6 separate regions of the Homo sapiens genome follow, and all the other regions are reported to be linked to region 2. The links are microRNA targets in miRTarBase. Many come from high-throughput screens and were not tested one by one. Region 2 holds a microRNA gene; each other region holds the end of a gene's coding sequence. Distances are from middle to middle.
The links. The annotated mature microRNA hsa-miR-382-5p reads GAAGUUGUUCGUGGUGGAUUCG and lies in region 2 at 3,556-3,577, opposite strand. An mRNA with a match to its seed (bases 2 to 7 or 8) in the 3' UTR can be bound and repressed. Matches are read on the target gene's strand: a 7mer-m8 pairs with bases 2 to 8, a 7mer-A1 pairs with bases 2 to 7 and ends in A, and an 8mer does both.

Region 1: the mRNA of RBM39 is a reported target of hsa-miR-382-5p. The part of its 3' UTR that is shown has no 7-base or 8-base seed match.
Region 3: the mRNA of SLC25A46 is a reported target of hsa-miR-382-5p. Seed matches in the 3' UTR shown: 7mer-A1 at 1,445-1,451.
Region 4: miRTarBase lists MTCL1 as a target of hsa-miR-382-5p. The part of its 3' UTR that is shown has no 7-base or 8-base seed match.
Region 5: miRTarBase lists GSKIP as a target of hsa-miR-382-5p. Seed matches in the 3' UTR shown: 7mer-A1 at 3,801-3,807.
Region 6: miRTarBase lists BBS4 as a target of hsa-miR-382-5p. The part of its 3' UTR that is shown has no 7-base or 8-base seed match.

The regions. Positions count from the first base shown.
Region 1 is chr20:35,700,990-35,704,989 of GRCh38, reverse strand. It overlaps RBM39 (RNA binding motif protein 39), which reads left to right. Exons shown (of 17, transcript NM_184234.3): 16 at 244-322; 17 at 409-3,643. The coding sequence ends at 509. Among named protein-coding and RNA genes, the nearest start is that of ROMO1, 3.6 kb to the right of the region's middle.
Region 2 is chr14:101,052,724-101,057,892 of GRCh38, reverse strand. It overlaps MIR382 (microRNA 382), which reads right to left and starts at 3,587; the gene lies at 3,512-3,587. It overlaps MIR134 (microRNA 134), which reads right to left and starts at 3,206; the gene lies at 3,134-3,206. It overlaps MIR668 (microRNA 668), which reads right to left and starts at 2,635; the gene lies at 2,570-2,635. It overlaps MIR485 (microRNA 485), which reads right to left and starts at 2,474; the gene lies at 2,402-2,474. It also overlaps MIR323B.
Region 3 is chr5:110,761,122-110,766,207 of GRCh38, forward strand. It overlaps SLC25A46 (solute carrier family 25 member 46), which reads left to right. Exons shown (of 8, transcript NM_138773.4): 8 at 83-4,036. The coding sequence ends at 661. Among named protein-coding and RNA genes, the nearest start is that of SLC25A46, 25 kb to the left of the region's middle.
Region 4 is chr18:8,830,513-8,835,681 of GRCh38, reverse strand. It overlaps MTCL1 (microtubule crosslinking factor 1), which reads right to left. Exons shown (of 15, transcript NM_001395333.1): 15 at 2,904-4,075. The coding sequence ends at 3,842. Among named protein-coding and RNA genes, the nearest start is that of GACAT2, 130 kb to the right of the region's middle. RefSeq lists an enhancer at 4,696-5,169.
Region 5 is chr14:96,384,442-96,389,610 of GRCh38, reverse strand. GSKIP (GSK3B interacting protein) reads right to left here. Exons shown (of 4, transcript NM_016472.5): 4 at 2,323-4,088. The coding sequence ends at 3,927. It also overlaps the pseudogene RNU2-33P. Among named protein-coding and RNA genes, the nearest start is that of AK7, 5.1 kb to the left of the region's middle.
Region 6 is chr15:72,736,391-72,741,559 of GRCh38, reverse strand. BBS4 (Bardet-Biedl syndrome 4) reads right to left here. Exons shown (of 16, transcript NM_033028.5): 15 at 4,597-4,798; 16 at 3,087-4,082. The coding sequence ends at 3,973. Among named protein-coding and RNA genes, the nearest start is that of ADPGK-AS1, 44 kb to the left of the region's middle.

The sequences.
Region 1 (4,000 bases), not on the chromosome of region 2:
CTTGGCATCTTGATTCATTCTTAGGCTGCATACAAATCGTAGAGAAAAGATAAAACGGCAAATTTGAGAGTAGAAGTCATTTTTTAATAAAATTCTAGTATACCTATTAGCCAGTGGAACCATTATGGTAAACCAGTTTGTGGTTATAGAGCACTAAGTTTCTACAGGCAACTTGAATAAACATAACTTGGGTCCATTTTGCATACAGCAACATCTTTACCTTTTTTTTCATTTTTTCTGTAGGGCAATGTGTATGTGAAGTGCCCATCAATTGCTGCAGCTATTGCTGCTGTCAATGCATTGCATGGCAGGTGGTTTGCTGGTGAGTTTGAATTTATTTTTTGACTGATTGTTATTAAGGCTCTATAATGAAGATGCTAAACCCAACATGTCTGTTTCTTTTAATAGGTAAAATGATAACAGCAGCATATGTACCTCTTCCAACTTACCACAACCTGTTTCCTGATTCTATGACAGCAACACAGCTACTGGTTCCAAGTAGACGATGAAGGAAGATATAGTCCCTTATGTATATAGCTTTTTTTCTTTCTTGAGAATTCATCTTGAGTTATCTTTTATTTAGATAAAAATAAAGAGGCAAGGATCTACTGTCATTTGTATGCAATTTCCTGTTACCTTGAAAAAATAAAAATGTTAACAGGAATGCAGTGTGCTCATTCTCCCTAAATAGTAAATCCCACTGTATACAAAACTGTTCTCTTGTTCTGCCTTTTAAAATGTTCATGTAGAAAATTAATGAACTATAGGAATAGCTCTAGGAGAACAAATGTGCTTTCTGTAAAAAGGCAGACCAGGGATGTAATGTTTTTAATGTTTCAGAAGCCTAACTTTTTACACAGTGGTTACATTTCACATTTCACTAATGTTGATATTTGGCTGATGGTTGAGCAGTTTCTGAAATACACATTTAGTGTATGGAAATACAAGACAGCTAAAGGGCTGTTTGGTTAGCATCTCATCTTGCATTCTGATCAATTGGCAAGAAAGGGAGATTTCAAAATTATATTTCTTGATGGTATCTTTTCAATTAATGTATCTGTAAAAGTTTCTTTGTAAATACTATGTGTTCTGGTGTGTCTTAAAATTCCAAACAAAATGATCCCTGCATTTCCTGAAGATGTTTAAACGTGAGAGTCTGGTAGGCAAAGCAGTCTGAGAAAGAAATAGGAAATGCAGAAATAGGTTTTGTCTGGTTGCATATAATCTTTGCTCTTTTTAAGCTCTGTGAGCTCTGAAATATATTTTTGGGTTACTTCAGTGTGTTTGACAAGACAGCTTGATATTTCTATCAAACAAATGACTTTCATATTGCAACAATCTTTGTAAGAACCACTCAAATAAAAGTCTCTTAAAAAGGCCACAGGAGATCTTCATTTTTCAAATGTTTTAAAGTTACAGAAATTTGAGAACAGAATTAGCTTCTTTTAGTCTCAATTCAGTACTTGCCTCTTGGGAAAATGTTCCGAGTCTGCGGAAACTTGCCCTCACGTTGTCCCCCATGAATTCCTTTATTCTATTAGAGTCTAGCCCTGTGTATTTTAGAAGAATGTATCAAAACTGAGGGGTTTACCAAAAAGAAAAGGAAACAGCCTGGCCTTAAAACCTGGGCATTCTTGGTCTCCTGCATTGTCTGGGCATATTTATGAAGAAATTTTCACCATTTACAATACATACTTAACAAAATGGCTTAACTTCAAACTGGTTTCCAAAATTGATTTATATATTAATATATTAAATAAGGTGCATATATTACTGTATTAAGGGGTTTTGAGCTTTCATACTAGTTGGGAAGCAAGCTGTCACCATTTATACTCAATTCTCTTCAACTGTTTATCTCTTGGTAAATCTTTTGAGTAGGAAATGCTGCTCCTAGCTTATCTTCAAATACTGAGTTCCTTACCTCATTTGTTCAACTTTTTTTTTTGTTAGCATTGAAGCACAAGTTTTACAGGCTTATTCAGAATTTCATATCAGTCGTTTTGTTTGACATTTATCCCAATAATTGTTCTAGTGATTTAATTTGTATGGAAACTCCCAAGGTTCAATTTCTTTTTCTTTTTGAGATGGAGTCTTGCTCTTTGGCCCAGGCTGGAGTGCAGTGATGTGATCTCAGCTCCATCTCCCAGGTTCAAGCAATTCTCCCACCTCAGTCTCCTGAAGAGCTGGGACAGGTGCGCACCACCGTGCCCAGCTAATTTTTGTATTTTTAGCAGAGACGGTGTTAGCCCGGCTGGTCTCACACTGACCTCAAGTGATCTGTCCGCCTTGGCCTCCCAAAGTGCCGGGATTACAGGCATGAGCCACCGCGCCCAGCCTCATTGAAAATTTACTTTTCAATACCAGACTGCAGAGTTCTTTGGGGCAGAGACACTCTGTCAGTGTGCTCTTTTTCCAAAGTATCTCCTGCTATCAGTTTTTCCCCTTGAACCAAGTCTTCCTAACAAATTTGTTGTGTCATTGCTTTCTAGGGAACTGGACCAGCAAATGTGGCCTTTAGTGGTTAATCTCATCTGTGCCAAAATTTAGTTGCTACCAGAGTGAAATTTGGTGTGTAAATAATGTTCAGAGGAAATGTGGTTGGAGTGTAGTAACTTGAATAGTGTCGTGCATAGAAAACAGCTCATTCTGAGTGAAACTGTTTATGTCCAATCAGTTCCTGAGTCAGCATCCCACTGGTTCGAAAATCTGTAACTAATCTGGTAATGTCCTTAATTTCCTCCTGCCTGTCAGTGTTCCAAAGTGTTCATCTAGTTTTCTTTTATCTTTATAATAATTACTACCATCTTTGAAAGTTCTGTTTAAGAAATGCTTAATGGGCAATGCGGGTTAGTAACTCCAGGGTCTGCGTGGCCTGGGCAGGTGAGATGGACAACTGCCTCATTACAGAAGCTTTTTATCATCAAACTAGTAAGTTTTGTGGAGGGCAAGCTATATAGATTGTTGATGAGTGGTTAGAAAATCATCTGGAATTTAGCCAGTTGAGAAGCTACAGAAGTTTCTATTTTTTTTTACAGTGGATGAACTGTTTTGCTTTTTCTGATAAAGCCACTAGGTATATCTAAATAACAACCTCGGGCTGGACGTGGTGCCTTATGCCTGTATATGTGAACACTGGGAGGCGGAGGCGGGTGGATCATGAGGTCAAGAGTTTGAGACCAGCCTGGCCAACACAGTGAAACCCCGTCTCTACTAAGAATACAAATTTTTTTTGTTTTGAGACAGAGTCTCGCTCTGTCGCCCAGGCTGGAGTGCAATGGCTCGATCTCAGCTCACTGCAACCTCCACCTTCTGGGTTCAAGCGATTCTCCTGCCTCAGCCTCCCGAGTAGCTGGGAATACAGGCGCGTGTCAACACACCCGGCTTAAGTTTTTGTATTTTTAGTAGAGACGGGGTGTCACCGTGTTACCCAAGATGGTCTCCATCTCCTGACCTTGTGATCCACCAGCCTTTGCCTCCCAAAGTGCTGGGATTACAGGCATAAGCCACCGCGCCCAGCCTAACAATACAAAATTTAGCTAGGCATGGTGGCACGTGCCTGTTATCACAGCTACTCGGGAGGCTGAGGCAGGAGAAACGCTTGAACACAGGAGGCAGAAGTTGCGGTAAGCCGAGATCGTGCCACTGCACTCCAACCTGGGCGACCAAGGAAACAACCAACCTCAGGATGAACATTGCTTTGGAAATAATGCAATGTGTGACCTTGAGGAAATTTCGGCTTATAAATCCATTTTTTGAAGTAGTTTTTCTCCTTTAAAATGGTGACCGTAGTAACAAGCACAGAGTTGTACTGAGTAATTAGTTGAATAGTATCTATGGAAAATACTAGACACTCCCAAGTTTTCCAATTTTGGATTAAGAGAGGCAGGCCTTGTGAAAGAGATACTAACCCTAGTCATTACGTTAGTCCATCTCTTTAGTGCAGAAGATCCTTGGCAAAGCTGGATAATAGGCTGAGAGAAGAATATTCCTTTAAGAGAGG
Region 2 (5,169 bases):
TGAAAGAAATTATACAATAAATATCTTTAAAGTGACTAAAGAAATTTTAAAAACTTGAAATCATAAAGGCCAAATAGAACAGAATGAAAAAAAAATGGACAGATGGGAAAAGGTGTAAGAGCAATGGTCAGACATTCTCAGAGACGAAATACCTCACAGAACATAGTACCTCAAAGTCTTTCCAACAAGGTTTGTGAAGATCGCTAGATAAAATAGTCCAGGTAAGTAAGAGCTACATGGAGAAGCCACATTAAGACAGCTAGTGAAAGCCTCAATGCAAAAAACAGTGGACAATAGCTATAAATTTCTGAGAAAAAACAAGTAGGCTGAGACTTTTATACCTAGTTAAGCTGTCCCTTGTGCATAAAGAGATATATACTCTCAAATGCACAGGAACTCAAGGGTAGTGTCTATGAGCTATTCTCACAGAAACAATAAGATCATTTCCATTGAGAGATAAATTAAACTTAAAAACTAAAGAACGGAGAAACCTCAGTTAAAAAAAAACAAACCTTGTGGTCAGAAATGAATTCATTTAAATATAGAACTATGGCAAAACACCTGCAAGAATTATAGTTCTAGAACAAATTGCAGATATTTATAATGTAAAATTAAAATGTATAATTGAGAAAAAGCAGGAGATAGTAAGCAAAGGAAGAATAAGAATGCTGACTTCTTTATCTTTCTGAACTAGGAGTGAAATTGAAATAGTTAAAAACCATAACAATCCTAACCACTTAATTTTTACACTCTAATTTTTCTTAATTTTACAGGGATCTTTTAGGAGTTGCTACCTGTGGTGGTAAAGCGAGAAACATTTATCAATCATTTCAATCTCCTTTAGCTTGTTTTTTATGATAAATTCAAGGAAAATTATAGTTAGCATTTTTAATAAAATGATTAGGTACAGTGTGATCTCATATTTTCCCTGCGTCTGTCTTGTTTTTCTATTTGCATGTATGCTCAGACAGGTGTATGAAATTTCTAAAGCCCTTAATGGTTATTTCTGGGTGCCAGAGAATTGGGCAATTTTCCTTCTTTTTCATTTAGATTTTTCCACATCGCTTGAATTTTATTAAGCATGTGTCATTTTCATAAATATGGTAATAAGGTAGAATAATTATCCTTTTTGAAAAGAAAAACAAGAAATTGAAAATGCAACTGTCTTCTGTTCTTAAATTTGCTGTGGCCTCCAGATCAACAGATGTGGTGAGTCACCCTTCCAGTGAGTCCCCAAGAATGCTGAAATCAACGCCCCTTCCCTGAATTTGTCAACATGTCTAAGAAGTCCTTCCTCCATGGTAAGATTTAATAGTGAAAGAGAAGAGAACTATACATTGTTTTTCTTTAAAAAAAAACACAAAACCCCAGAAGCATCATGGGCACCACCACTTCCTCAGTCACAGAGGGGTCTTGAGCACAGATCACATGCTTCTTCCCCAGGAATGCACTGGCTGAGGATTAGGAGTGCTAGCAGCACCTACCCATTGGTTCCAGGGCCACACACATGTTCAGTTGCACTGGTGTGGAACCAACATGAGTATGGTGTCCCCTAAATCGGCATCAGGTCCAAGAAGACACCTGGTGAGATCTGATACCGAAAAGAGGTCGACCGTGTATTGGGCATCATTAAATAATGCGAACTCACCACGGACAACCTCCCTCCGAGTACCATGAGGTGGCACTGCTCGCAGCATTCCTGCATCTTCTGCACAGCCTGGGCAGCTTGGGAGTGGCCTCTGAGGGTGGATGGGACCCTGAGGATGAGTGGACCAGGTGGCTCAAACCCATGCTCTCCGGCCAACCCCAGGTTCACCAAGCCAGGATTAGTGTGCACAGAAATACCACTTCTTGTGCTCAGCTGGCCATGCAGGCAACATTTAATAATGCAAGGATGTCAGTGGCACAGGAGTCATTAAATATGAAGCAAACCACACACAAATGTGTGTGCAAAAGCAGGCTAAGCACTGCCTCCTTGGTAAACCTGGGATTCCCTTACAGGAATTCTCTGGAGGGTGTAAGGCTGCTGTGGGTTAGTAAACCAGGGGTCGCACAGAGTCCTGTTCCTGTTTTCTTCTGTATCCCGACGGCTGACTAATAAAAGATGCTTCTAGATGCCCAAGATTCAACTCCAAGGTTGAATTTGATAGGAATAAAAAAAGAAGTCAGCCATGTGTATTTCAATCTTAACTTTTAAAAAATTAGGGCATCCCAACAACCTCTCTCGATTTTCCTAAAGTTGGTAGTGCCCCAGGAAGTTGTTTTAGGGTCAGCTTGGACTCTAAAGTTAGTAGGTCAGTTACATGCATCCTCAGGAAAATGCTTGCCATGGGGTCAGCCATCCAGAAACCTACCTTGGAAGCAGCACTGGCTCAGGAAGCCCTCCGAGGCAGAATTTGACACTAAAAGAGAGGAGAGCCGTGTATGACTCGCTTTGATGAATCGAATTCATCACGGCCAGCCTCTCTCCAAGTACCACACATGAACACTGGTGAGAAATCCATTGCCTCTCTGGCAGAGGTGGCCGCCCTTCTCGGGAGTCCTGTTAGGAATGGGTGGGATAGTATTGGGTAGTGGGCCGAGCCGAGTGACATACACCCACATTAAGTGCATGCTCACCCGAGGCGCACTTACCTTAAGGGAGTGCTGAGGGCACTGCCTTCTCCCCAGCAGCAAGGATGCAGTTCGTCCTTCCAGACAAGACAGGGAGCTTTTGCGTAGCTCACTGGTCCCTGACAGGAGAATCATGGCCGCTTCCCAAAGCCGCATTATCTCCATGGAGCCTCCTAGGGAGAGACAGGATGCTGGGTATTAGAGGACGACGTGACAGACCTAACAAAGGCAGCACATGCTCTGGGAAGAAGGATTCAGTCACACACCCAGGAGAAAAGCTGGCCCACATCAGGTCCCTCAACAGAAGACAACATGGCGTCCCACATCGGAAGTCAACACTTCAAGGAGGCTGTCACAGTGGTGAAGGGGCTGCCAAGGCTGACTCATTGCATTTTAAGTAAACATACACCCCCAAGAGCACGTGTCATCGCAGTCCACCAAGCAGTCACAGCAAGTCCATGGCCGCTTCCCCAGAGTTGGTGGGAGCTCTGGAAAGTCTTCCTGGAGTGGGAGTGATGCTGAGGGTTGGTGACTAGGTGGCCCACAGGGTGAACACAGTGCATGCCCCTCTGGTCAACCAGTCACACACCCTGGACGGTGCTGACACCAACATCTCTTCTGGAAGTCGGCCTGGGGCCCAGGGAGCCTCTCTTCAAAGTCTTGTGAGGTGACGCTGGTGACAGAACCACAGCTGATTCCCCAGAGTTGGTGAGACCCATGGGAAGACCTCCTATAGGTGCATGGGAGGCTCGGATTATCGGGCCAGGTGACTTACAGCTAGGTCAGCGCATTGTCCATGGCCCGCCATCCATTCTTGGCTTTTCCACATGGTTGACACAAAGACTATCTTTCCTGAAGCTGCCATTGTGTCCAGGAAGTCCTTAGAGGTAGCATTTGGTACTGAAAAAAGTGTTGTCCGTGAATGATTCGTCATAAGTAAAGCGAATCCACCACGAACAACTTCTCTTCAAGTACCACAGAAAAGCAGAGACAAGACAGACAAGGAGTCCCCTTCCACTTCTCCAAGGGGAGTGGCTGCCAACCACCATCCTGTGGACAGAGTGGACACCGAGCATTAGTGAGGCAGCTTACGGGTGTCCTAGGAACACACTGGAGTTTGGGCAACCCTTCACTCACCTCCCTTGGAGTGGTGCTGGCACAGTCCCCCTTCCCTGGAGTTGAAATTGTGGTCCTGAATCCACACGCACAAGGTTTAGAAATAAGAAGAGGGAAGCCACTTGTCACACGCCAGGAGCACTCCGCAGTGTGTAGACCCCAGGGTTTCTGAACAGGGCCTTGGACTTCTCAACAGAGCACACTGAGTTATCCATCAAGCACATCAAGGTGCCAGCCAGGCTCCCGCAGGGCCCACTGAACTAGGGAGGTCCAGAGGGGGCCCCCTTTTGCCACTGCAGGTGCCCCTAGAGAAACTGCCCAGCTCAGGCACGCCAGGCTCCTGGTAGGTTCCCCATCACTGCCCTGGGTAGATTCTCTATCAATGCCCTTGTGGTCAGAGTGATCTTTCCAACACAGACCACGCATCCCCCCTGCTCACAACCCTTCCAAATCCCCCATCTCACTCAGAATAAAACCTGGAGTCCTGCCTCTCCCAGCTCAGACCCAGCGACTCCCAGCAGCTCGGTTCAATCCCACTGGCCTTCTTGCTTTTTCTTAAAGATGCCAGGGGGCTTTCCATGGGCCTTGCCCTCCTCCTGAAATGCTCCTACCCCAGACCTTCCTCTGGTCCACCCCACTCCATTCCCACCCACATCCTCAGAGAGAGCTTTCCAGACCCCTGTATTTAACACAAAGGTCCACCTGCTTTTACCTCTTTCTGTCACTGTAACCCGCTTTCCCTTTCCCCATAAAACCTAGCAGTGGACAAAATTACGCTTCCTAATTCATGTGTTCTCATCCGTCTCTTCCACCAGAATGTAAAGTCCACATGAGCAAGAACTTGATTTCATTCACTGCTCTCTGCTAAGGTCCAGAATCACCTAGAACACAGTGTGCACTCCATCACTATTTATGGAATGACCAAGTCATTCCTTGTTATTTGATCAACTCATGAACCATGTAGTTATGCTATAAACAAAAGAATCTGATTTTTTTAAAAAGAGAGAACTTTATCGAAACAAAATCATGGTGGCCAAAGTCACCAACCCTCTCAATAGCCATTATGGCCATGGGCAGGACACAGCTCTGGCAGGAGAGTGAGCTCAGGGAGACGCCTCAGAAACAAAGCTCAGACTGCTCAACTAACTCTCCACAAACTCCAACAGATGTGGATGCCAAGTCTCCCCAGAGGGCGGTGCTGCTTCCAGAAACCCTTCCCTGGCAAGATTTGGCACTCAAAAATTCTGCCCTGGAACAAAAGCAATAATGATGACCAATTACCTATCAGTCAGTCCGGCTGATGACAGTAACACTACCGAGCCAGCATGTCTCCAGAGATTCATCTTACCAAGGGTGAGGGTCACTTGGAGCAGGTGACAGACGTCTTGTGTGAATGGGCCTCTCACTGGTCAACTTCCCCCAATAATGTAGTGCAGACAC
Region 3 (5,086 bases), not on the chromosome of region 2:
AAAAGGAACCTAAAAAGAGTCCTTTTTCTGTGGCAAAATAAGCAAATGTTAAGTTTTACTTATTTCATCATTTTTATTTCAGAGTGAGATAATTCGAGATAATACTGGCATTTTGGAGTGTGTTAAAGAAGGAATTGGAAGAGTGATAGGCATGGGAGTGCCTCATAGCAAACGACTTCTTCCGCTTCTTTCCTTGATCTTCCCTACGGTGCTTCATGGAGTTCTTCATTACATCATCAGCTCAGTTATTCAGAAGTTTGTCCTACTAATTCTAAAGAGAAAGACTTACAATAGCCACCTAGCTGAGAGCACTAGCCCTGTGCAGAGTATGTTGGATGCTTATTTTCCAGAACTTATTGCTAACTTTGCTGCCAGTCTTTGTTCTGACGTTATACTTTACCCATTGGAAACAGTTTTGCACCGCCTTCACATTCAAGGAACACGCACAATAATTGACAATACAGACCTTGGCTATGAAGTGCTTCCAATTAATACACAATATGAGGGAATGAGAGACTGTATCAATACCATAAGGCAGGAGGAAGGAGTGTTTGGTTTTTATAAAGGGTTTGGTGCTGTTATAATACAGTACACACTGCATGCAGCTGTTTTACAGATTACCAAAATTATTTACTCTACACTTCTTCAAAATAACATTTGAGATTTAGGTTCCTTCACTGAGTAGTCTGGAAGATATAATCTGGATAATTTGCTATGAAGTTATGAGGGATACAAGTGAAATACTGGGGAAGAAAATGGATTGGAAAGTAAAATTGGTACTAAAGCCCATACTGATTATCTTGACTTTGTTTTTTAAGGCATAGGTATATATTTTGGATCAAAATCCTTCCAAATTTGAAAACTCAATAAAAATAACACTTATTAAATTCTAGTTAGTGTAGCACTCATGCTGAAGTAAACATGATCGTAGGCAGAAGCAAAATTTTATTATAAAATCTAAAACAAAACTTTATAGAGTTGAATCTATTCCATCTGACTTCAATATTTGCCAAACGTTTATTTTACCTCCTAGATTGATGTTGGTATAGTATCCTTAATACAGTGTAGTATATTAATGTCCTTAATACAATCAGGAGGTTTTTACCTTTAAGCAAATAAATTATGTCATTATTGAAAAAGACTTAAGGGATGATTAGACTTGGCAATCTGTAAGCAGGAGTATAAATGTTTTAAATTGCATTGTCCCTATGTAACTATCTTAATGGCTATATATATGTATTTTATAAAGCCATTTATGTATACACATGTAACTTGGAATTTCCTTCATCCCTACACATTTTCTACACTTACATCACCTTATTGCATAAAACAAAGTCACGCGCTTTCTGCTTGAACATCAAAATATCAAAAACCAAGGTACCCAAAAGATACAAGTCAGAGACAACATCCTTGTCCATATCCAAACCCAGTGTTTCAGTGCTAGCAACTTAATTTCTCATACATTTATAGAGTTTGGTTTGCTTTGCTAGTTGTGTGAATCATTGGGCTGTTTTTAGAGCCACTGTTAAGAGAGAATATAAAATAATCATGACAATTACTACTGTTTCCACATTTACAAATTGTGTACTTAAATGAACCTCATTTCCCTTTTATTTCTGAATGGCTTGTCTGAGAGGAAACAAAATTAAAATTCATCTGGGAATTTGTGCCTCTTGTCTAGTATATAGTCACCACTAAATAATGGCTTCCGTTTTTATTTTCTTTCAGGTTTTGCTTTAAATTTTGTTTTCCAAAATAGATGTACGTGGAGGGAAAAGCAATTATTCTTATCACCTTTTATTTAAACTTCTTTAGATGAATACTGAAGAAAAATCCAAACCTTAAAGGAAATGTGCCCTTGTATTTTATGGGTGAGGGGAAAAAGTACATTTGTACATTTCAACATATAATAAGCAAAAAAATTACTAATCAGTTTAATAAAAACATTTTGTCTATTCCTAAATGTAATTTGGTGGGTTAAGCACTTTGTGTAGTAAAATGATATGTGTCTGCTCTATCATTAGACATTTTAAAGTTTCATGTCTTCACGTGAATAATCACAGTTGTATCATGAACCATTTAGCGCTCTGAAGCACAGTGACTTTGCACTGATATTGTCCAACCAAGAATGCATACGAATAGAAATTCATTTTACTTGCTAAATGTCACAGAAATGGTTACTTTTTGCAAATAGTAGTGTTGGAACAAAAAAGTGATATCCAAAAAGTGTAAAAACAGTAATAAGTAGCAAATCTCTCGTGTGTGTGTGTGTGTAGTTACTGAAACACCTACATTTTCCATTTTTAAATTCCACCAAAAGGGGGAAAATAAAATTAAACACCACTGATCACATTTTATATTTTATGGTGACTATTTTAGATTAAGGTTTACTTTGTCCAACCAATAGCATTTAAATTGTTTTCAATTAGGATAGTTTCAGATAAGAGTAAACCAGAAAATTTCAAGTTTGAAAAATTTCTAGAAAAGAATCTGAATAGAATCAAGTATTTACTAGTGAAAATCTGTAGGATCCTTTGTTTAGCTAAAAATTAAATATTTCAGGATATTTTTTGGAAGTTAGCATGAAAATAGTTAGTTACATAAATTCATTTTATTGTAGAATAATTATAAGACTGATAGGCTGAACCATACACAAATAAGGTTGATCTTGTTTTCCTTTTTGGAGAAAGAGAATACAAATTAACATTAAAATTGAAATGTAGAAAGTAAAATATGAATAATTTTTTACAACCACTCCAAATTAGTTGAAACAAAATCTTGAACGGTCACGCACTTAAATTTAAGCTAGCCAAATATGTTGCACTGAATTTTGAAAAGAATGAGTGAGATAACTGTAAGATACGCTCGTTCCCTTTTAAAAATTGTTATTTTTCTTTAACATGGGTGCCAAATCAAATATCCATGGGCTATACTTCTTAAGATAATAACAGCTCAAAATAATATTTTTTAATTCAGTAGAACTAATAGCATTATGGAAAAGATTCTATTAAATGTTCCACAGGCCCACTGGTCCTCTTATATAAGCCAAATTTTGGCCATGGAGCTTGTGATACACTTGCCTTACATTGTAGGGTTTCTTAATTTGAGTCAAGTACACTGAAAGCAATTAAAAACTGGTAAATATTAATTTACTATGTAAAGTGAACTTACGAATTAACTTACTAAATACATATATGTAGACCTTCCCGAAATGCCATTCTCAATTTTATTTTATGGGCTCCAAAAAAAATTATCTGGGTTAATAAGGTTATCTATTAAAGCCCCCAGAATCTCAGCACTAGATGTCATAAATATGAAATAGTAAAAACAAGGTCACTTGAAAATGGGTATTTAATACCTTAGCTGGTGTTTTCAGAAGCATACAGAACTGGAAAGGTAAGAACTTGCTTACTATTGCAGATATACCTGACCACTCACAACTGTCTTTTTAGCAGCAGCTTTGTTAAAACTGCACAAAGCATTCACTTTATTGATTGAGTACAAATGCTTTAGTGTTTCTACCTAAGTATTAGTACATCTGTTCAGGAAATGGAAAAAAAAAATGCTGCTTAAATTTGTTTTATCAGCTGAGGTTGTGGAGGATTTTTGTCCACTGATCTTTTGCAACAGAAAAGCATACTTTGTCAGCTTCTAATAAGATAGCCAGGTTTGAATTATTTGCAAAATTTATATAAGCAAATAAGATCTCTTGGTAACAATTGACATTGCACTAGAATTTGAATGATACTGTTGTTGGCATTTCTGTTTCTCTTTCAAGTAGTTGTAAATAATCTCTTTTTCTCATATAAACGGAATGCATAATGTCTTACTCTTGAGTCATTTAGTATCATTGATATGGTACCAAGTTGTATAGCAGAGTAACAAAATCATGATTTGACAATGAAATTTACATATTGCCTCACCTAGAGATGTTTTGTCTGTATGACTTTTTTTTTTTTAAGTTTGTCTTACTGTTACTTTAAATGTTTTGGGTAAATTGTGTAATATGAAAAGTTCAATAAAATGTCGAAATAAAGCCACTGTTTTTCTCCTACTGATGTGAGAGAACTATTCAGGCTGGTGGTTAAAGATGAAGTATATTTTTTTAGGTAGAAAGGAAGATCAACAAAATATGTGAAGTTAAACTTTTTTGCACACTATTTTTTAAAATCTCTATAGCCTCCTCACCACATCCCTATGACATTTTTGGAGTTGTGCTGTTTGATTAAGAATAAAATAGATACAGAGAGGAGGTGATTTGTCCTGCATTTCACAACTAGGAGAGTAACAACAGAAAAATGACAAATAGGCAGCTCCAGACTCCCATCCCTCCATGGAAAGAGAAGAAAACAACCAGAAACTGTCAGAACCAACTTTGTCAGACTCTGGAAAACAGTCAAAAGTTTACAGCAACTATGTGAATGTTAAATCAAGAAAAAGGCAACTTATTGTTAGGAAAGCTTTGTGGCTTTGACTTACCTTGGCTCCTGTCTTCTCTGTGGTTCAGTGGCATGGCAGTCTTAAAAATGGCAGCTTGGGTGCCCAGTGTGGGACCTGACCCTTGGTTCTAGAAGGAATAGAACAGACATAACTTGCTGGAAGGGAGTAAAACGATGTATTTATAATGCTGGAAATAAGTAATTTCTTTAAAAGGTTAAATAATGTTATATCTAGCAAAACTACCCTTCAAGAATGAAGGCGAAATTAAGACATTCCCGGATAAACAAAACCTAATGAAGTTTGTTATTAGTAGAACTTTCTTACGAGAAATAAAGGGAGTACATCAGGCTGCAAAGAAAAGACAATAGATAGTAACTTGAAGTCATATAAAGAAATAACACAGGTAAATGTAATTTTATAGGTAAGTATAAAAGCCAGTATTACTGTACTTTTAGTTTGTAACTCCACTCTTTCCTGTATAATTAAAAAGGCAAGTGCATAAAAGTGAATCTATTTTAATGGTCACACAATATATAAAAATATATCTATGACAAGAACAATATAAAGTGAGAGAGATGGAGATGTATAGGAGCAGAGTGTTTGTATACTACTGAAATTAAGTTGATATTCAACTTGTTGTTACATG
Region 4 (5,169 bases), not on the chromosome of region 2:
GCAGCTGCTCCCCTTTCACACCATGTGTGACCCACATAGCAGCCTTGGCATTCATCTGGACAGTGGTGTGGAAAATGATTTCATCCTACTGTCTTGCCTGGCCTTTAACAGTTGGAGTGCTTCCACCCTAGACTTAAGAATACACATGTCCAACTTTTAGAAAATAAGATGTGAGAAGAAGTTCCCAGACGGCTTTTCAAGGCACTGGTGCTGCCAGATGTGGCTTTTTTGATGAAAGTTCTGCTCCCAGCCTGGTTTCTGCATCACTGCCCAATGCGACCTGTGTCTATTACTGCCCCTCACACCTCTGCTCCTCCCACCTCCCACTTGCTTCTCCTCCTGCACATTGGAATGCTTCCCGTACTGCCAAGCCTAACTCAAGCCCTACTGTACTTAGAATTTCTACCACACCATTTTTCATTTTATTGTTATTGTGCCTGGGAATGTTATCTCTTCCAACCAGTTGGCAAGTTCTGTGGTGCTCAGAGCTTTTTCCTTGCAATTTTGGGGTGTCCCACAGTGGTATACGCCTTTACTGCCTTTCTGACGCCCTCTATTCTAATCGTACCCTGCTTTTCCTTTGCTGGGTCTTCCCGTCACCACGATTGGCTCAGAGCCAGACATGAGACTTAATCCCTACCAAATGAGAATCATCGGTCCTGGGCTTTCACTGGAGCTCCTGGTAAGAGATCCCCTTTCTCTAGGAGTTGCTAAACTAATAGCAGCAGCTAGGGACCATTGTTGCCAATTTTTGTGATGCTTGTCTGAGTATAAAGCCATACAGAGTAGACAGAGTTAGGAGACTGAGCAAAGTCCTGATGGCACGGTTTGAGGCTCTCAGTCGTGACAGCCACAACTTCCCTTCTTGTTGGTGGCTGGTTGCTTCCAATTGAAGGAATACCAATGTACCTCTCAGCATTTGCAATCTGCACAGAATAGGCAATGAATATTTACTGACCTGCTGATTGTTTGTTTGCAGGTATATCTAGAGTGATAAAGTGAAATATTTATATTTTGCATTTATTGGAAGTTTTTATTGGCCAGGCACGGTGGCTTATGCCTGTAATCCCCGCACTTTGGGAGGCCGAGGCAGACAGATCCTCTGAGGTCGGGAGTTCGAGACCAGCCTGACCAACATGGAGAAACCCCATCTCTACTAAAAATACAAAATTAGCTGGGCGTGGTGGCACATGCCTGTAATCCCAGCTACTTGGGAGGCTGAGGCAGGAGAATCTCTTGAACCCAGAAGGCGGAGGTTGTGGTGAACTGAGATCACGCCATTGCACTCCAGTTGGGGCAACAAGAACGAAACTCCATCTCAAAAAAAAGTTTTTAAGCTGGGCATGGTGGCTCACGCCTGTAATCCCAGCACTTTGGGAGGCGGAGGCAGGTGGATCACGAGGTCAGGAGATCAAGACTATCCTGGCTAACAGAGTGAAACCCCGTCTCTACTAAAAAAAAAAAAATACAAAAAATTAGCTGGGCGTGGTGGCTGGCGCCTGTAGTCCCAGCTACTCGGGAGGCTGAGGCAGGAGAATGGCGTGAACCCGGGAGGCGGAGCTTGCAGTGAGCCGAGATGGCGCCACTGCACTCCAGCCTGGGCAACAGAGTGAGACTCCACCTCAAAAAAAAAAAAAAGTTTTTATTGTGGTAAAATCTATAGGCCATTTATCATTTTAACCATTTTTAAGTGTACAACTCAGTGGCATCAAGTATATTCACTGTGCACCATCACCACTGCCCATTTCCAGGACTCTTTCATCATCCTGAACTGACACTGTGTACCCATTACACACCAATTCCCCATTCCCTCCTCAACCCTTGATAACCACTGTTTTCCTTTCTCTCTTTGACTCTGACTACTCTTGATATATAAACGAGATACATGGAACCAAACAATAATTGCCATTTTGTGGTTGGCTTATTTCACTTAGAATAATGTCCTCAAGGTTCATCCATGTTGTAGTACGTCAGAATTTACCTTTTTTAGGGCTGAATAGTATCCCTTTATATGTATATACCACATTTTGTTGATCCATTCATCTGTCAATGGACAACTGAAGTGTTTCCACCTTTTGGCTATTATGAATAATGCTGCTATGAACATAGGTGTGCAAACACCTGTTTGAGTCCCTACTTTTGGTCCTTTTGGGTGTATACCCAGAAGTGGAATCCCTGGATCCTATGGTAATTTTATGTTTAACTTTTTGAGGAAGTCATACTGTCTTCCACAGCAGCTGGGCCATTTTACTTTCCCACCAACAGTGCTCAAGGGTTCCAATTTCTCCACATCCTTGCCAACACTTGTTGGTTTTTATTTTTTGAAAATATTTCAGTTTAAGGATGAAGCTGTGGTAATGCTAGGATAGCCTATTACATTAGCAGCTCATCTATATAAGAAGAAAATTGTTGGGTTAATGAAGCACTAAATGAAATACTAAAGCCAGAAGCTTCAGCCTGAAATCATTCTTTTTGGGCTCTTCAGTAGCATCACTTCTTTCTACTCCACCAAACACTGAGAGGCGGGCTCATCTCAGGATCAGAGATGGAAAGGCCTCTTCTAGAGTTATTGGCCACTCCCTCTCTCCTAATGAGCAGAGCGGGCAGAGAGGCCGGGCACACTCTGACTTGTAGGTAACCAGTTTCCTCACATCCCTGCCCACACCACAGTTTTGGCTTTTCAACAATAAAGCTGTCTCTCTATCCTAGGACTCTCTTACGGGGAACAGTAAAACTGCAACATGATCACGTACCCAAAGAGTGCATTCCCAGCAAGATATATTAGCAGCTGTTGCCTCTTTACATGATCTCCTCTCTCCCTCATTCCCCTAGCTATGGAAAACTTTCCATCTGAGTCCTTAGGAAAAGATGGAGGGTGTGTGAAATGAGAGACCGAGACATGCTGCCATCTCAGAAGGGCTTTATTTCTACTTCATCACGGTCTCATACAGACCCAGAGGCATCATCATGTGTTTCCATTTGGTATCCTTGTGACTTTTTGTAGTGTTTTCCCTTAAGAAAACTTTGAGTAAACTCTGTACATTGCCAGTTAATCTTTTCACAATAATTTAAAAATGGTGTTGCTGTTGGATCATCGATGCAAGAAGACCAACAATAAAAGTACAGTACAAGGAAATTCACAACATATTACAGTGGAACAGACTGAGTCACATTTAGGTGATGGCGAGGACACAGTAGCGGTATATACATGCACCCGAAGACGTGCAAGCCAAGTAGGATAATATAAGGATCATACAGTGAATTTTCTAAGCCCACTGAGGACTTTGTACCTTTTCAAAATCATCCTGTATCCCCTCCAGCATACAGAATATCTGTCTTGTCTACTGGCTTCATGGCTTTTTCACTACAAAAAGTTCACTGAATCAGACAGTCTGAAGCATTAAAAAATTCGTAAAAAACAGTAACACTGACAAAATAAAATTAACTTAATCCACTCTAATTCAACATGGAAATAAACTGAACCAAAATGTAACAGTGCAAATTTAACAGAGGCAGTCAGGTATTGACAGCGAGGGTGTTCAGAATCTCTTAAAATGTACATTTTTTAAAACTTTTATTTTTTAAATCTATTTATACCTTATTTACCTTTTCGTTTAATATACTGTGTGTAAAAAAGATGGAGACAAAAATAGTTTTCTGAGCTATGAAAAAAATTAAGTTATTACAGGCACATTTACTGTTTCATTCTAGAAACATCTCAGTTTCACAGGTTGAACATTCAGCAGCTTTGTGTTTTTAAAAAACATTCTTTGACCTTGAGAAAACTAGATCTCTCCTGTTGGGCAGAGTTTTGTTCATGGTGATGGTGTGGTTATGCAAATTACAGTGAATTATACTGTGATAATCCATGCAAGCTTGCATCTCGGTGTGGCTGCTCCTCGGGCGGCTCCTCGCCACCATGCTCCTCCAAGGACGTCGGGTCTCCGGGTGACTGAGGCTGTGAGGCAGTGGGGGAATGTGGGGCCCAACGGGACGGAGGGCGACGGTTTGCTGGTCTCTCGGGCCTGGAGAAGCAGGGCTCTAGGGATGGAGCTAGTGCAGAACAAGGTAGTTCCTTCAGAGCCGAGAAAGGGAGACAGGGTTACTCAGACCGGCAGTGTCACCAGTGGATGATTCCCCCAAACACACTTCTCAACAGACTCAAGTGAGATGAAGTATACACCACAGGCAACTCGTGAATATTAACTACTTTCTATGCTCATGCAGAATAACTTAAAATAATAAAGAATTCAACACAAATGATCAGTGACATGAATGGGAAGAGACCAATTATGATTAAACACAGCAATACTGTGAGATGAGTCAGCTTGCAAAGCTCCTTTAGAATTGGGCTGGGGTATACAGAAGGCATGACACAGTGACTGTGGCAGCGGTCTCCACAGGCCACTTCATCATATTCCTATCTGGTAGATCTGTTCATTTGGCCCTTTTGTATGATCTATTTAGCTACAGTGGACAAGTGAACTGGTCCTACAGGGCCTGGATCTACTGGGAGCCCACAAAGAGACCTCTGATTTCATTCAGCTGTGTTAGCAATGGCAGTCGTCTTAAACGAACTCTGCTACTGTTTATTTGAAATTGACTGGGAGTAGCTTAAACAAACTCCCACAACATGGCAAAAATGCTGCAGGCAGAAATTTTAATTTGGGTCTGGTTTTCTTTAATGACTGTTCAATTGCAGCAGCATTTTAAAAAGGTAGAATCAGAATGTACTGGTGGTTTTGTGTTTCAGGCATCCTAATGTTCTGCGAGCAGGTGATGCAAGACACACTCAACCATGTGCAAATCACCTAGAATCCTTATTCTCAAGCTACTTTGTTTTTAAAGAATGTTGAGCTCCTTGTCCTTACATGTTACAAAACCAGGACACCCAAATTTGGAATTTGCTGATACACAGAAATGTAAAAAGCTGTGGCATGAGAAAACTGAGTTGCCCAGCATGGAGCCCGCTGGCTGGAATGACACTCAGACACTGGAAGCTTGAGGTGAACTGAATGGAAGGCACAGGAAGGATGACAGAGAACAAGGACCCTCAAAGAAAGGAAGTGAGTTGGAGGATTTAAAAAGATGTGACAAGCAACTGAAAAGACCAGGATGAGGACAGCCCAGCCAGTGGTGCAGGGGAGCAGCAGCGGGGGAAGGACAGAC
Region 5 (5,169 bases), 4.7 Mb from region 2:
CGATTCATTTTCAAATTTTTAGTTTATCTCTGCATTCCTTGTTGATATGCAGTTAAGCAGGTAAACACTTTGAAAGTTATTCAACCAGTCATGGTACAATGAAATATTTAACTTACCTGTTTCTTTCATGAAATGAGCTTGCCACAGTTACAGGGGGGATAGCTTCTAGATAATTTTATATATATTGGTAGGTTAAAAAAGGGGATTCTATTTTTTTTTTTTTTTGACATTGAGTCTCACTCGTCGCCCAGGCTGGAGTGCAGGGGGCAATCTTGGCTCACTGCAACCTCTGCCTCCCGGGTTCAAGCAATTCTCCTGCCTCAGCCTCCCCAGGAGTTGGGATTACAGGTGTGTGCCACCACACCCAGTTAATTTTTGCATTTTTAGTAGAGATGGTTTCACCATGTTGGCCAGGCTGGTCTCAAACTTCTGATCTCAGGTGACCCACCCACCTCAACCTCCCAAAGTGCTGGGATTACAGGTGTGAGCCACCACACCCAGGCCAGAGATTCTACTAATTCTAGTATACCAACTAACATGTTTGTTATTCTTTCCCTCTTTTAAAATCAGTTTTCGTATAAACACAAAATTAATGTGATGGTTTTTATTAACACGTACTGTATGGGGACAGCTGGCGGAGTCAGAAGACCTAGGTTCTGATCCAACTACACTGCTCACAAGCAGTTGCTGAGCAAGTCGCTCAATCTGTCTATCTCACCTGTATCATCCAGAAAATAAAGGGATTGGAAAGAAAGTTCTGAAGTCAATGTGGCACCTATCAGAATCTCAGTGTTTTCTTACTATGTTCCTCAACATTCAAACAGCACATTCTGTTTTTGAACACCGGGGAGAGAACAGCACAGTGTGCAATAGAAGAAGCTAATGATTGTAAGTACATTAGTAGCAGCCGAACCTGGAGGAAAGGTGGGAAGAGTGTCATCATGGGAAATGAGGTGTGCACTCTTCTCTTCATAATCATTCTGCCCTCTTCAAGGATCTGGGAGCAGATACAACTCAGCAAGGATTGGTGCTTTTGCTAGACAGCCTCTAGGTAGCTTAAACCCCACATCTATTGCATTTCCTGCTTCTAATTAGTACATACAAGCTAATGTATAAAATGTGAAAAAGTATTAAGGAAATGAAAATTATCTATTTTATCACCTAGTGATGACTACTAACAGCCTATAATCTTTTTTTGTTACATATACAATTATTTTTCAAAAAAGTATGTATAGTTTTATATCCTTTTTTGTGTAGCATAATTCTCATTGCCATTTTTTCATGATTTTTAGTGGTTGCATATTTTTCCATCAAAAGATGTAGCATCACTTTACCACTCTTTAGAGCCTTCCCAATTTTTCATTAGGGGAAATGAACATCCTTATATACTAGTTTTTTTGCTGAATCATTTCCCTATGCTAGGTTGCTAGTATATTACCAATTCAGAAGTTATAAACTTGTAAAGGATTTATTACCAATGTTTCCAGAAAGATTTCAACAATATACCCTCCAATAGAATGTAAGAGTGCTTCCTCATTAAATCCTTACTGGTATTAAGTTTAAATAAGAAGAATCACAAAAGTAGCAGGTGAAATGACCCAATAACTTAAAATTTCTCTTTCTTGAGTTAATGGTTGGGTTGGGCCTCTTTCAAGTAGTTACTGACATCTATTTTTTTTTCTGAGTTGACCATATTATTTGCCCACTGTTTGCATTTTTTCTTCCTACTGATTTGTAAAAGTTATTTATATAAAAGTTTTTTTTTTCTTTTTCCTTTAGAAGTGAAATCAAGGCTTAATTTATCTGGTTAAGTTTTATAATTTTCATTTTTTTTTTTTTTTTTTAAGAGACAGGGTCTTGTTCTGTCATCCAGGCTGGAGCGCAGCAGCACGATTGTAGCTCACTGCAGTCTCCAATTCCTGGGCTCAAGCAATCTTCATGCTTCAGCTTTCCTAATAGCTAGGACTGCAGGCATGTGTCACCAGGCCATGCTTTTATAATTTTTTGTAGAAATGGGATCTATGTTGCGCAGGCTGTCTTGCACTCCTGGCCTCAAGTGATCCTCCTGCCTGGGCCTCCCAAACCACTGGAATTGCAAGTGTGAGCCACGACACCTGGCCTATCTGCTGGTTAAGTTCTTTAAACAGACCAGGTAAAATGGAGGTTTTAATATCTAGATTCTCATGTATATCTGTGTAGTTTTATTAATGTCCTCTCCTCTTGTTCCTCATTGCTCTTTCATAGTAGTAACAAGAGAAAGCTCACTTCAGTCATTTCAAATCCAAATGTAACAATGCAGAATTAAAAAATGGAAACAAGCTCTTGGAATTAATCATTTATCACAAAATGAACAATTTCAATTCTTAAACATACAATCACTTTTTTTCATACTAACTCAAAATGAGTAAACAGAATTTTATTCAAACTTTACAAATATCATTTACATTTAGCCTGAGATTAAACATGAGAAAGTTCAACCTGAAGTTAGACTTCGTTGCCCAGTTAAGCATCTGAAAATAAAGCTGAGAATGAACATACATCATCAAACAAAGCATTCCAATGAAGTCTGGCAATGAATTGTGACACAAACTGAACTTTAATTTGCTCTGGTCCACATGATCTTCAGAGCCTAAAAGTTCCTGTTTTTTAATAATGATGGAAAAATATCTGCAAATGATAAATGCATGAAGGTATGACCAGATGCAAAATTTTAGTTCAACATTTCTATAGCAGCTGCTTTAGGTGACCATTAAAAAACAACTCCCCAATCCTTACTGTTCAACATGTACTTGAAAACATGCAGCAGCATGGTACAGTTTATTAAATTTATAAATATCAGTACCTGTAATAAAATATAAAATACTGACTATTCCTTTTTCAAATATTAAGTCTCTGAATGCTTCATTCATCCTTTGGTTTCAAACCCATACAATGCACTCATATTACATTGTAGATTTCGAATGGAGACAGAACACTGTACATCTGTTGGGGAAGGTGGGGTGCTGTAGGAATACCAAAGCACTACATCATAGAAAGTAAACGTTGAAGCAAAAATACTTTCTGAATATATACTGTACATTATGTAAACACACATTCAGAATAAGAATCAACACAGGCCAAAATATTGTTTTCTAGGAAACCAGAATCTTCTTTCTTTTAAATCACACACTGAAGATGCTTTTTTGTTAAGAAAAAGAATGAAGTCTGTTCCTGTATTTGCTTATGTGCTTAGATATCTTGGAAATGAGTAATTATTACATTCATTTGCTAACGGTTTATCCTCTGCTTAGTTGGCTGGCTGTTGCAAACACGGAATACAGAACTATTTCAGTCCCTGTTTTTCATTTAATACTAGTTAAGTAATATATAATTAATTCATCTTTATTAATCCATTATTAGTAATATAAATAGATTAAGTGAAGCAGTGAATTTCAAAATTTGTGCAGGGGAAACTAGTTGATAATTTGTTTCCAATAAGGCTGGTAGCAATTAATTACTACAAAGTTTGTCCAAGCTAGTATTGAACCCCTGATTTAGCAGGCTGAATCAAAGTGTATAGTTAGGTACTTCTAATTCCTCTATTACTGTGCAAATCTAGAATTTCCTATGTAAAAGACAGTGCTGGCAGCATCAAAGCCCTGTAATAGTATGAAATAGTGATTAGGATTTGAAATGAAGAGATATTATATGAAGACATGTGAATGTCTTAATGATGGTATCATAGCAACGGCCTCAGAATTCCCTTACTGAAACAGAAACTAAGACAAATCATTATTCAATAATCTTCTGAGCCAAAAGCCTAAGTTGGAAGCAAGTGATAAAAACACAAAACCAAAGATGCATTTTCTATGACCATATGCAAGAATTTTAAGCTTTATATCAACATTCTGTACCAGCACCAGCCCCTCTGAAAGGAAAAAGTGTAGTCATGACTGTCCATCTCTTTTCAAAGCTTCCAGTCTTTGAAGCAGTGCGTTTCCAAATGCTTCTCGGTAGGCGGGGCTGAGTGTATCCAACAAGGAGTAGACTGTTTCATGGTAGGGAGTCTGTAAATGATCATCTACCTGGTCAAAAGCATAGCCTACCACCTACAAGAGAAATGCAACAGTGAATTCATTAGTTTTCATGTTGGTACAGAAAGCAAAATCCAAGTGTTTATGTGAGTAATCATCCTTTCAAAAAAATAAATTATTTCTTTTCCTAGCCACTAGACCACCAGATACATGGGTAACTGAGTGAAACTATTTCTCAAAGTCAGAGTATACACATTTTAAATACAACCTTTAATACTTCAGCAACTTATAATGTATAACACAGAAACACCACTAAAATGCTCCCTATAGAATTTTCAACATTTAAAAGGTTTTACTTAGAAGCTCAAGGAAATGCAGAGAAAGAATTTGAAAAGCTACACAAAAATGGTATTTCATTTTCATATTCTAAAACATGCATCTATTATTTACCCCATTTAATTCCACATATATTGAGGGTCCACTATATTAAGTACTATAATAGGTAATATATCATTAGTTCATATTTTTTTCATTATTTTTCACTTCTTTTATAAACAATTCTAAAAATTATTCCTAATAATTTAGTTTTAATAATTAGTTGTTAATTTTAATAATTGTTTATTAATAATTGGTTTAATAGTTTATTAGTTTTAATAACTGTTTAGCTTTATTATTAGTAATCTGAAAGGCCACTTTCACCTAATATATTTCTTACCTGACAGGGAATAAATGCTCAATTCTGTGAGATAAAAGAACATGTTAATGTGTTTTTTTTTTCTTGGTAGGGGTACACTATTTCTGGAGGTATTTGCAATACCAGGTCGATGTGTGAAGTTAATGGAGCAAGAGCCTATTCTATCTCCCTGCTCCAAAAATCCATTTAATATATTGTCCTTAGATAGAGGACATAACAGATATTAAACTGATAAGAAAAGATACTCCAATTGATCTTAGGCAAAAGGCTGACAGGCCATGTGTTTTTCTTTTTTTTTTTTTCCTGTGAACACAGCTACAACTTTTCTTTTTGACAAGATTATAAGGTATATCATGGTTCACCAGCACAATATAGGGCAAAATTAATTTAGTTTTTGCTGACTTAAGTGTGTACATTCCCTATATAAATCCTAAATTTTTATGACATCTATTTAAGCCATAG
Region 6 (5,169 bases), not on the chromosome of region 2:
ACTCTTCTGGTGACTATGGCCTTGTAGTATAGTTCGAAGTCAGATAATGTGATGCCTCCAGATTTGTTCTTTTTACTTAGTCTCACTTTGGCTTTGCAGATTTGTTCTTTTTACTTAGTCTTGCTTTGGCTATGCGGGCCCTTTTTTGGTTTCATATGAATTTTAGGATTGTTTTTTCTAATTCTGTGAAGAATGATTTTGGTATTTTGATGGGAATTGCACTGAACCTCTAGATTGCTTTTGGCAGTATGGTCATTTTCACAATATCGATTCTACCCATACATGAGCATGGGATGTATTTCCATTTGTTTGCGTCATCTATGATTTCTTTCAGTGATGTTTTGTAGTTTTCCTTGTAGAGGTCTTTTACTTCCTTGGTTCAGTATATTCCTAAGTTGTTTTTTTGTTTGTTTTTTGTTTTTTTGCAGCTATTGTAAAAGGGGTTGGGTTCTTGATTTCTCAGCTTGGTTGCTGTTGGCATATAGCAGGGCTACTGATTTATGTACTTTACTTTACTTTTGTATCCTGAAACTTTGCTGAATTGATTTACCAGTTCTAGGAGCTTTTTGGATGAGTCTTTAAGGTTTTCTAGGTATACGATCATGTCATCAGCAAACAGCGACAGTTTTACTTCTTCTTTACTGATCTGGATGCCCTTTCTTTCTCTTGTCTGATTGCTCTGGCTAGGACCATGTTCAGCTTTTCACAAACTATTTAGGATTAATTTTGTGTCCCACTACATAAAATATTAAAACCTTGCAACCATATATGCTTTATAGTTGTCATGTTATTTATGTATGTTCAGCCTCACATACACTGTGATATTTTTTCTTTGAACAATCATATGTATTTTTTTAAAGTTAAACCGAGAGAGTATTTTATATTTACCACTTGTTTACATTTGTTATTTATGGAAGGATTGGTCCGACATGAACTACTAAGCCATTATCAGACAATAATGAGTTTTCCTTGAAAACAAAAATCATTGTAGTGACACACTCCAAAGTGGTTTACTGTCTTTGGAATGCACAGTTTTGCCCAATATTATTCAGCAAGAAGGATACTTTTTTCTCATTGCTAGTTCATACTTCTACTTTCCTGCCTCTCTCTTTCAGTTTTCTAAAACCACATCCGTAGCTGTGATTATGTTCTTGGTTTCATTTTCCTAATTCTGTTACAAATTCTGATGACATGAGCAACCAACCCCCATACTAGAAGTTAGAATAGCTCCTATCTCACCAGAGTAAAAGAAAAATTGCAAATTCACATGCCCAAAAGACTGACCCTGCACACCCTAGTAGAGTTTATTTTTAAAAGAAAATCTAAGTCAAATTAATGTGGAAAGCATTGCTTCTTTACTGCTATCCCTGGAAGCAAAGCACCATCTTGCCCCCAAATGTGGAAAAACTCAAAAACTCTACTCTTGCATTCTCTGTTTCCACCATGCTATACTTAAAAAAGACTACCTTTTTACCCTTCTCTCCCCAAATATTAGAAGTTTCTCATATCAGAGTAATGAATACAGTTCTGTCCTCTGAAAACCTCTTCCCTCTACATCAAAGCTTTCTGAAATAAAAGTAGTCCAATATCTACTCATTCAGTCTTCAAGTCCTTAAGTTTCTGTTGCCACCACTGCTTCATCAAAGATACATCACTGCTTGATGATTGATGGTTAAGAGCAAGAGCTCTGCATCCAGACCTGGATTAAAATCCTGGTCCTGCCACTTACCTTTGAAAATTTGTTTTGTCTCTCCTAACCTAAGCTTTCTCTTCTATAAAATGGGGATAACAGTACCTCTCTGTTGGAAGTGTTCAATGAGGCTGACCATTCTCTTCCCAAACCTTTCTTCGTTGGCTTCCCATAATACCACTCTCCTGGGTTTTTTCTTGTATCATATGCTTTTTTGTGGGCTCTTCTGCTTCTCCCTCTAAATACTTATTTTCTTTCATTTGGTTGCCTGTCGTCTTATTCCTAGCTTTCCGTGGATGACTCCTTTCAAAACTATGGTTTTGATGATTCCTCAAATCTAAATTACTCCTGAATCTTAAAAAATTTTTTTTTGAGATGGGGTCTTGCTTTGTTTCCCAGGCTGGAGTGCAGTGGCATGATCATAGCTTACTGCCACCTCAAATTCCTAGGCTCAAGTGATCCTCTTGCCTCAGTCTCCCAAATAGCTGAAACTATAGGTGCGCACAACTGCGCCTGGCTTTTTAATTTTTTGTAGACATGAGGTCTGAGCCATCTTGCCCAGGCCAGTCTCCAACTCCTGGGTTCAAGTGATCCTCTGGCTTTGGCCTCCCAAAGTGCTGGGATTACACGTGTGAGCCACCGTATCTGGCCTACTCCTGAATCTTTATCTTCAAACCAGGTTTCATTCCTGAAATCTAGCTATTCAGGTATCTGATGGATATCATCATTAGATATCTTAAACATCTAAAACTAGATTCCACAACCAACCCTCAACCCTAGTCCAATATTCCTTTACTCTCCCTGGTTATCTAAGCCCTGAAATGGGTACCCAATTATTAACCTGCCACATCCAATCAATCCCCAATTCCTGTTGATATTAGCTCCTAAATCTCTCTTCCTCTTTTTTCACTAAGACTTTTCCAGTTTCAGAAAGTAACTAGACCATTTCATTCTAATATACTAGACTCCATGCTGAAGTAGAAGTGTTCTCAATTGTTCAGGGTACAAATCCACGTTTGCCACATACCACCAGCTGAATGACAAAGGCATCACTTCTGATACTTTTTGAGATACAAGAAATGAAGGGGGTCCTGCTCAGTTAGCTGCTTCTTCAATGTCAAAACAGACCCTGTAATAAAATAAGGAACTCCAACCGGTTTGGTAGTAGGTCAGTTTTCTATCTATCATCTATCTAATCTATCTATCTTTAAATTATGGTGATTAAAGGGCACTTTCAGTGCAAAATGGGGACTGGCCCTCAGTAAGCAAATTGCTGGCTTATCATGCATCAGGGTTGCTGCAGAGGCCATGCCTGTACCAAGCAGGAACTTGGCCTTGAGGTTCCTCCTCCAATTTCAAAATAGGCTTAGACACAGGTAAGGGAAGACCGTGATCATAGGTTCTTTTAGGTTTTTATTATGATCTCTTGTTTTTATACCTGAATAACAATTTTCCCCAAAGGAATGATGATATGTAATCTTTATTCTAAAAAGGACACATAGTGTATTGATAGCATCTGGTCAGTGGTTATCACTGACTATCTTCAATAACAATTACTCATCTAAGAAACTCTTCCTTTTTTCTTTAAAATCGTTGGTGCTGATCCAGACAAGCCCTGGGCTGCTGCTCCTCATCCTGATAGGATCTAGCTTCTAGACTGACCCCTCTCAAGAACAAAATACAGGGAGGGACTTGTTCTGGATTCCCTTTGGGCAAATGCAGCTGCAATACTCAGCAGGCTTGGCCTCAACTTCCAGGGCTTTTGTTTTTTTTCTTTTAAATGTATACTATTAAAGTTGGATTATTAATCTAATATTTGTGTTTGCCTTGGGGACTAATAAACCTCACAACCTGAGGATCACCTCAGTTAAACCAAGGCTTTGTCATCACAGAGCTACTCAGCAGAGGTCTGTCTCAGCTGTTCCTTGAACTAAGGAAGGAGTCAGTCAGCTAGGAGAGAAAAGTCCTTTTGAAAGCAGACAGCATCATGTACCTTGCTGACTCAGCTACATACATAAGGCCTCAAGCCTTGCTGCCAGTTCTTAAAGGAACTGTGTTCTCTTTTCACTTTTCCTGGCTTATGGGGCAGTAGAGGGTTTCCGACCTCAAATGCCAATACCAGGTAGGTAGAAGGACCTTAGGCTCAACTGCTGGCTCCTCGTAATAACACACACTGTATTCTGTGGTGGGTGCCACTCTGCTCTGCCTGTGTCATGTCACCTTTCCTAATCCAGCACATCCTCGCCCAAGAAAACCCTATTTTGGGGTCATTCATTCTATTCTTATTTCTCTCTTATTTGTTCTGATGTTTCAGTTGGACTTGATTCCACCGCAGGCTCTGGCTCCAGAGGAAGAGATGGGGGCTTTGTGAACTGGGATGTTCCTCCAGCACCTAGTAACAAAATAAAAACTTGAATCCTCATGTTCCACAATTTCAGAAGAAATCATTCTTTTTTGCTGTTAGAGTTCAAGAGGAAACCCCATATTTTCTGGAACCAGTGGGACTGACCCATTAACTATAAGGGAAGACTATAACTGAGAAATAAAGCAACAGTCAAGTTTGCCTTCAATGAGTCACTGAAAAATATTTACGTGTCAACTTCTGATAAAGCAGTAAAAATTAAACATTGCATAACAGGATATACTTAATAACATATTGCTAAAATTGGAAAGACCAGTGTATAGACCATCCAACTAAGTCTGTGAGTAGCTGTTACCTACTACATAGCTCGCCTTAAGGAAACAAGTGCCAATTTAGCCACCCTGTGTTTTTTTTCTCCCCTTGTGGCCAATACTACGTTGGACATATGAGTCTGAAGAGAACCTCACTGAAAGCTATAATCTCTGCTGACAGACACATGTGGCTTGTACCTGCCAGGTCTTCATGGAGCTCTGTATGGTCCTACCTGAGGGGAGCGTCCTGTATGCAGCTGCTGAAGACATTGCCTGTCCTAGAGCTTGATTAGAGCCCAGAGGCTGCTGGAAACTGGCAGGTTTGCTGGTTGAAGTGGTCTGGTGCTTTGATTTGGGATCTTTAACTGGTTTGGTCCAGACCAGTGCCTCCCCAACCTGGAGAGCAGCTCCCAACTTCTGAGCCATCTCCACCATCTTGTGTCCACAAAGGAAGTAAAAGAATCAAAAGCGTGACTGTCAGAGACAAGCCAACCCACTTCTTTGGTCTTCGAGCTGGGGTTTTAGCTGAAATAGTGTCTGGTCGTACTAGCAGTTGAGGCAGGAAGTACTTATCAAACAGTAGAGATTACAGATTGCCTTTACTGGATGGCATGGTGGTTCACATAGGATCTCAAAACCCAACAATTCAAGCCTGGTGCATTACCGGGCCAAACAGTGCATTTCCTACAACAAGTGAAATAGGGCTGGGCACGTGGATCACGAGGTCAAGAGATCAAGACCATCCTGGCCAACATGGTGAAACCCCGTCTCTACTAAAAATACAAAAATTAGCTGGGCGTGGTGGC